2 linked regions of the Homo sapiens genome follow. Each later gene encodes a partner of the first gene's protein in a complex. Each region holds a gene or a part of one and is shown in the gene's direction. Other genes may lie near its edges.

The links.
Region 2: INTS1 (region 1) and INTS12 share a complex: the UniProt entries of both Homo sapiens proteins name them as parts of the integrator complex.

What each region holds. Positions count from the first base shown.
Region 1 is NC_000007.14:1,494,228-1,498,042, reverse strand, and holds part of INTS1 (integrator complex subunit 1), read left to right. Parts: intron 1-728; coding exon 729-905; intron 906-1,778; coding exon 1,779-1,887; intron 1,888-2,489; coding exon 2,490-2,610; intron 2,611-3,149; coding exon 3,150-3,227; intron 3,228-3,815. UniProt on the Homo sapiens protein: Component of the integrator complex, a multiprotein complex that terminates RNA polymerase II (Pol II) transcription in the promoter-proximal region of genes.
Region 2 is NC_000004.12:105,687,979-105,691,793, reverse strand, and holds part of INTS12 (integrator complex subunit 12), read left to right. Parts: intron 1-2,513; exon of another isoform or gene 2,514-2,663; intron 2,664-3,815. UniProt on the Homo sapiens protein: Component of the integrator complex, a multiprotein complex that terminates RNA polymerase II (Pol II) transcription in the promoter-proximal region of genes.

The sequences.
Region 1 (3,815 bases):
CGGGTCTTATTATGTGGCCCAGGCTGGTCTCAAACTCCTGGGCTCAAGCGATCCTCCTGCCTCAACCTCCCAAAGTGCTGGGATGACAGGCATGAGCCCCTGTGCCTGGCCCAGACCCGCCTCCTGTGCATTGGGTCCCTCGGTTAAGCAGGGGTCCCTGTAGCCCTGGCTGTAGGACCCTTGGATTTCCGTGTCTCCTTTGAAGCGGGCTCGGGAGATGCTCCCATCGCCACCAGCGCATTAGGCCTCCCGGTGGGCTCTATGGAGTGTGAAACACGAGGGAGGCACAGCCGCTCTCAGCTCCGCGTTCAGTCTTCGCGGCCTGGCATTTTGAGACAGGAGTGCGTCCTTTCAGATCCTTTCAGATCTTGGGTGGTGGCCTTTGGTTTCCGTTCAGCCCGTGGCGCACGGGTGGGCTGAGATGGCACACGCGCTTCTATGGCTTTGCCGCCTGGTGTCCCGCACCCCCAGCTTCCGTTAATTAATCCTCCTCATTTCACGAGGACCGACTCCCCACCTGCCGGTTCTCAGAGAGGGGAATCAGATGTGATCCCTGCTCGCCAAGGGCTGGCAGCCAGTAGAGCAAGGAGCCCGCCACCCCGCACCCCACACTGTCTGAGACCCACTGCAGCGCCCTCGGGCGCCATACCTGTTGGTGCTGCGGGAAGGGGCCTGTGACAGGGACAGCACTGTCGGGCAGCCTCCCACGCGGCCTCTCTCTGCCCCAGTTCCTGGCCATGGTGTTCCAGGACCTGCTGACCAACAAGGACGACTACCTGCGGGCCTCGCGGGCCCTGCTGCGGGAGATCATCAAGCAGACCAAGCACGAGATCAACTTCCAGGCCTTCTGCCTGGGGCTCATGCAGGAGCGCAAGGAGCCGCAGTACCTGGAGATGGAGTTCAAGGTGCCAGCCCTCGCCGCTGGGGCGCCTTTCCCTCACTGCGGGTTCCACGCGCCGCCATCCCCCTCGTCCTGGGTCCCATGCACACTCCACCCCTTCGGATGCTCTGGCTGAGCGTGGGTACGGGGATGAGTGAGGCTGTTTGCGGTGACGCGTCCCAGAGGGTAGCATAGGCTCTGTCCTGTGTGAGGACCTATGAGGGGCTGACCAAGCACAGGGGAACTGGCAACCCCTAGGCTGGATGGGATGAATTGCTGCCGGCAGCAAGGGGAGCACGGGAGCAGGGAGGCAGGGTGGGGCTGCGGGCTGCCTGGCTGGGTTGGAGACTTTTCGAGGGCTGTGGAGGGAGCTGGCGCTGGAAGGCACAGTGAGGGTGGATCACAGAGATGCCAGGTCCCTGCAGCCAACTCGCAGCCAGCCTGCCGGGGTGGCCTGTTTTGCGGACGGGGCTTTGTGGATCTCTGTTGACTGAACCTCCCTCCTGTGGCCAGACTAGGACCTTGTGGGCCACCGGCCCTGGTGCCCCTCCTGTCAGGCCCCTCTCCCAACTGGTCCTGGGCTCTCTCTCTGGATCCCTGCTTGTGTGTGTGTATGTGTGCGCATGTGCAAGTGTGTGCGTGCTGCACCCACGTGTTTGTGGAGTGGGGCTCCCGGGTGTCCCTTCTGGATACAGACCCCGTGCCGCGCCCACGTGGGTGTGGAGTGGGGCTCCCGGGTGTCCCTTCTGGATACAGACCCCGTGCCGCGCCCACGTGGGTGTGGAGTGGGGCTCCCGGGTGTCCCTTCTGGATACAGACCCCGTGCCGCGCCCACGTGGGTGTGGAGTGGGGCTCCCGGGTGTCCCTTCTGGATACAGACCCCGTGCTGCACCTGCAGGAGCGCTTCGTGGTGCACATCACCGACGTCCTGGCCGTGTCCATGATGCTGGGCATCACAGCGCAGGTGAAGGAGGCCGGCATCGCCTGGGACAAAGGAGAAAAGAGGAGTAAGGATGTGGGGGTGGCCTGGCCCTGCTTGGTGGGGGTCTCGGGTCCAGGCTGGTGGCTGGCGGCTCTCCGAGGCTGCACTGTCCCCTGAGCGCCCGGCAGGAGCGGTCCCGCAGCACGGCTACTCGGGGACACGGAGCCTGGAAGCTGCCGTCCCCGTTCCTGTCCATCCGGGCCTCACCCCAGCTGCAGGCTCAGACCCTGTTCCCATGAGCGTCCTTTGTGTGCTCCAGTTCTGGCCCAGCATGGGGGCATTGCAGGCGTGGTGGCCCCAGCCACGGGCGGGAGTGGGGAGGGGAGGTGGTGTTTGGGGCAGTCCGGGTGTTTGATTATGGGTTCACAGGAAGGCTGGGCCGCAGAAGCCCTCTAAGCCATTGACCGGAGCGAGTCACTCGGAACAGGAGGATTCCAGTCACCCACGCACGCGTCAGGGTCACTCCATGCCTCCCAGGGTGTTATTCCAGCTGGGAATCGTCCAGAAGCTGGGGGTGCCCTGAGTTACCCCCTCCCAAGTGCCAGCATTGAGTTGGACCCCCAGGGGTGCCTTAGCCCCTCATGGCCCATGGCTCGGATGGGCCACTAAGCTGCGTGTCTGTTTCAGACCTGGAAGTGCTCCGCTCATTCCAGAACCAGATTGCCGCCATCCAGCGGGATGCCGTCTGGTGGCTCCACACTGTGGTCCCCTCCATCAGCAAGCTCGCCCCTAAGGACTACGTGCACTGGTGCGGCTGGGGCCCTGTACAGCCCCTGTCCCACACCCCACTGAGCCGGGACAAGCCGGGGCCCCGCACAACCCCTGCCCCAAACCCCACTGAGCCAGGACAAGCCAGGCCCCGCACAGCCCCTGCCCCACACCCCACTAAGCCGGGACAAGCCAGGCCCCCACACGGGAGTCTGTCCCCTCTCTGCGGACAGCAGCAGCCGTTAGGCTCCAGGCAGGTCACCCTGTGCATTGGAGCCTCCCGTGGAGCCTCTGCCTTGGTTGGGGTGGGGCTGCCAGGCTGGGGCTGCATTTCTCTGCAGCGATTTTGTAAAGGGCTGTCCAGCCCGGCAGCCCCGTTCGGCCGCTGTGCAGCCTGGCAGCCCCGTGAGTGGTCCCTGGGTTCTTTGGTGGTGCTGTGAGGAGGTGCTGAGCTTGGGCACCAGGCAGCCCGGCCTCTGAGCGCTGGGGCCCGTGGGAGCGGGGTCCCTTCCCTGGAACTAACGGGGCTGGTCCCTGAGCACCCACATCATGACTGAGGGCTCTTCTCTGCCTGCCCAGCCTGCACAAGGTGCTGTTCACAGAGCAGCCGGAGACCTACTACAAGTGGGACAACTGGCCACCCGAGAGTGACCGCAAGTGAGTGCGCTGCCGCCTGGGGCTCCTGTGTGCCGGGCTGGGCGGGGCTGCGGGGTGCCGGGCCGGCTGCGGCAGGAAGGGCCAGTGGGAGTTGGGCGGCTGTTCCCATGGTCACAGCACCATCCTGCTCCTCCTCCACAATCCTGGGTGCCACCCTTCTCCCACTCCCATGCTGGCGTCCCAGCGCCACTGTAGGGATTCAGCTGCCGTCTGCGTCCACGTGACTCCAAGCCCCAGCCGCAGCCTCCCCCGGACCCCCGCCTTCCAGTTGCTTCCAGGGCGTCCACGGGCACGCCACCCTTCACGCAGTCTCAGATGCACCGTCTGCCCCTGCTTCTGTCCAGACAGCCGCACACTGTCCTTCCCCAGCCGGCTGGCCTCACAGCTCTGTCCCCCTTCAAGCCCCATGGGTGACCCCGTGGGTTCTTGGTCTACACTCCCCTCCAGCCCCGCCTGGGGCTCCTGCCAGTTCACCCTGCCCCCACCTCGTGCCCTGGGCGCTCTGTTCACCTTCACTGCGGCCTTCCGGTCAGGCTTTGGAGGTGTAGGGGTTATCTCTGTCTCCTGGCCCCCAGCTCCTTGAGGGCA
Region 2 (3,815 bases), on another chromosome or scaffold:
TATGTGCATTTTTCTCTTTTTAGTTTTATCTAATTCTAATATAGATAAAACAAGATTGGTGACACACAAATTATGAATATTCCTTACTAGTCTGTCAATGTATTGACAAACATTTTAAAATACCATGCAGCACTGAGAAGTGGTGAGATACAAAGCCCCACTCTTTGTTGAGATCTGGTAAGGAAATATAGAAAATTTCTGAGTGAGCTTAAACCACCGCATGGATAAGATGTGTACAGAGGCGATATTTATATGTGCATATCTGTCTTTCCAGCTGCATTTCTCTGTTGCTTAGTCTTTCCTTCTCATTGTCCTCAAGTGACCATTACCTCATTCTTCCTATGTACTTTCTCTTTTTACTGTTGACTAACATACCTGCCTTTAATATCATAGTGAAATATCTTTTCATTTGTTATATTGGATAGTTTTCTAACTTTTATTCACTTATAAAATAGATAAATGATAAATGAATTTCATAATTTTTCTTTTAAAGAAAACAAGAAATTGCCATAATGTCTTATTCTCCACCTCTCCCTCCCACTTCCATCTCTCTTCCCCTGCCTTAAATTAGTGATTCTCAATTGCAGAGTTCTCATGTCTGTTAATCAAATGAATTTCTATATAAATTTGTCTAACCAATATATCTTTTAAAGGTCAGAAGTACTTAGTTAAAAGTAAAAACTCGGGATACCCATTTTACTTTTTAATCAGTTAAATCAGAAATAGGAAGTGTTTTTATTTATTCCTATGAAATAAAAAGTAGTAAATGAAAAGTGTGTATATCAATAGTGTGTATATTTCTTACTTGTAACAGGAAATTTCTATGACAAGTTACAATCTGTTCTGCTCAGTTTGGTTTTTATTTAATTTATTATTTAAACTAGCCCTCCAGGATCTCAAGTGAAATTATTACAGATGAGCAATGCATTCCAGAGCATTGATAAGAAACCACTAAGAATTGGAAATTGTCAAAAGAAACAAATTGTGACAATAATCTATCTTTCTTTAGTATGTACTCAACTGTTTCATTATTATTATCACTTTAGCTCCTTTAATATCTAAAGTAAGCACTGTTCTTCCCCCAAGTTTTTTCTCCTCCATTTTTTCTGATTTATGTCAAATCTATGTTTATGGTTCTAACCCTCTTCCTGGGTGAGCTTCTATAGCTAACTAGATAGTCTATAGATACTTTAAGGTCAATATATTTAAAAGTGAAAGTTGTTCTATTATCCAGTTTTTTTTTTCTGCAATTGCCTGAATTAGAAAACATCTTTGATGCCTCTTTTAATTCCATATCCCATTGTTTACCAGATTTGCTAATTCTACCTCTTATATGTCTCTGAAATCTATTCATTTCTCTTTTATTACCCTGTTCCACAAATCCATTACTTGTCTATTGCAATAGCCACTTAATAAATCTCCTTGCCTCCTATCAATCCACTTTGCTTACTATCATTAGAATTCTTCTAAAATATTTACCTACTTATATATGCCCAGTGGCTCTCAATTACTTATATAATGAGATTATACTCATTAGGATGCATATATGGACCTTCTCTTTTTGACCCGACTCTACCTTACAGCCCTCTCTCTCACTGCTTCAGCATACACATTCATACACTCTGGCCACTCTGACACAGACTAAGTGTGTCATTCCCTGAATATGTGGAGAACTTTCATGTTCCCATATTTTCTGCTTCTCAGCTTCTTCTCTTCATCTGGGATACTGTTTATTCTTTTATCTGCTTTGCAAATAATATCTAATTTATCAGTAAGAGCATGTATTCATTGGCATAGCACTTAAGCAGAGCTCAAGACTGGACACATTCTACATTCTGTTGTTCTTAAGTTAAATAAAATGAAGCAAATGTAATTTTTTTCTTTTTCTGAGACAGGGTCTCACTCTGTTTTCTAGGCTGGAGTGCAGTAGCATGACCATGGCTCACTGCAGCCTTGACCTCCCAGGCTCAAGCAATCCTCCCACCTCAGCCTCCCAAGTAGCTGGGACTACAGGCATGTGCCACCAGGCCTAGCTAATTTTTTTTTTATTTTTTGTAGAGATGGAGTCTTGCTACATTGCCAGGGCTGGTCTCGAACTCCTGACCTCAAGTGATCCTCCTGCCTCGGCCTCCCAAAGTGCTGGGATTATAGGCATGAGCCACCATGCCAGGCTAAATGCAGATTAGTACCAGAAATCAACAGTGAATCTGGTCTGTGTGTCCAGAAGTCAAAGTACTAAATGGGGAGTCATGGCTAATATTATAACATGACTAGAATACACCAAGAGCAAATGTGGGGAAATACCAAAAGACATGATCTGAAGTGAGCCTAAAGATCAGAATCCAGGAAATGTAAGGTTTAATGAGATAATTTTGGAACAGTGGGGATTCTAAATACAGTCATTCTAACTATAATTGCTTTGAGTGAGATTCTCATATGTGCATTGGTTATTGTTCCAAGGTATCTCAAAGATATTATAAATAGGACCTGATATCCCCTTTCTCCTCAAACAGATTCCTCAAACTGGGGCAAGTTCTGCGGTACACATCATTGTAGGAAGACCTAGTTAAGAATGTTGTGATCGTGTATGGCAGGGTCCAAGGTTATTCTTCAGTTCTATAGTTTTCTCTCTACGCAGTAGTGGAGTTTTTCCCCAGCTTCAGGTGAGAGACTCATATCACTTATTGCAGTGGTTCTCAATCTAAGGTAGTAACACACTCCTATTTTGCAGCATTTAGAAATAGGTGGGGTTTTTAGTACTGCCATTCTGGCAGTTAGTGCCTTAGTGGAGAATTTTATACATTTTGCAATGTTTGAAGCAGTCATCCAATGAAAATTTTAGTACCTTTGTTGAACAAAACTGAATCAGTAATTATATCCTAGTTCCCTAAACTAGTATTACCAGTAAAGGACAAAGGGTTGTGGGTATTTCTTACTCAGTTTCTAAGATGGCTGGATAAAACAGGGAAGGCAGAAGATTGAAACATGATCTCACAGGCAGAAGTACTTCCTGGGGCTTCATCATAATTAGTCTTTATCTGTTAAAACATACAAGTTAGGTGGGTCCTCAGAGTCTAACCTCAGGAGTGCTAGATGTGGGTGGAAGGCAGTGTTAAGATTGAAAGCCATGGTTTTGGAGCCATATGTTTCTGTTTTACTGTGAGGGATGCATTCTCGTAACATGGTTTTGCAATGAAGGATAAGATGGCTCTGCTTTCCTGCTAGTACCAGTAATCAAGTAATCAACAGTGAATTACTTCGAACATTCTTAATATTCTTGATCTAATTGTTGCTTTATAAGTGATGTTGAAGGTAGGTGTACTTTGATGTGGAAGGTATGTAGTATAAAAAGTGATACGAATTGAGATTTAAGGACCCAAACTATATAGTATGGCAAACAGTAGCCCAAGATTACACAAGAAGGCCCAAACAAGAGCAAAATAGGCCAAATTCTGGCTTCCAGAAATGGTGACAAATTGTTAATAAATTCCCTGGTATAGTACTGTATGGGCTTATGAAGATTATCAAAGACTATGGAATGGCTGGCGGGAAGCATCTTTCCCCGTTCAGTATGCATGGATTTTTCTGGATTCAGTTTGATTATCCTTTGTAAATAATAATGATGAATAAACAGTAACTTTTTGTTAGCACTCAACATTTTCCAGACACTATGCTAAACTCTTACATAATCATAATTCATCCTCATAACCCACCTTTGAAACAAATGCTATTACCATTTTACAGATGAAGAGAATGAGGCTTTTAGAGATTCACATATTTTGCCTGAGGTAATGTATCTAGAAAAATAGTTGCTG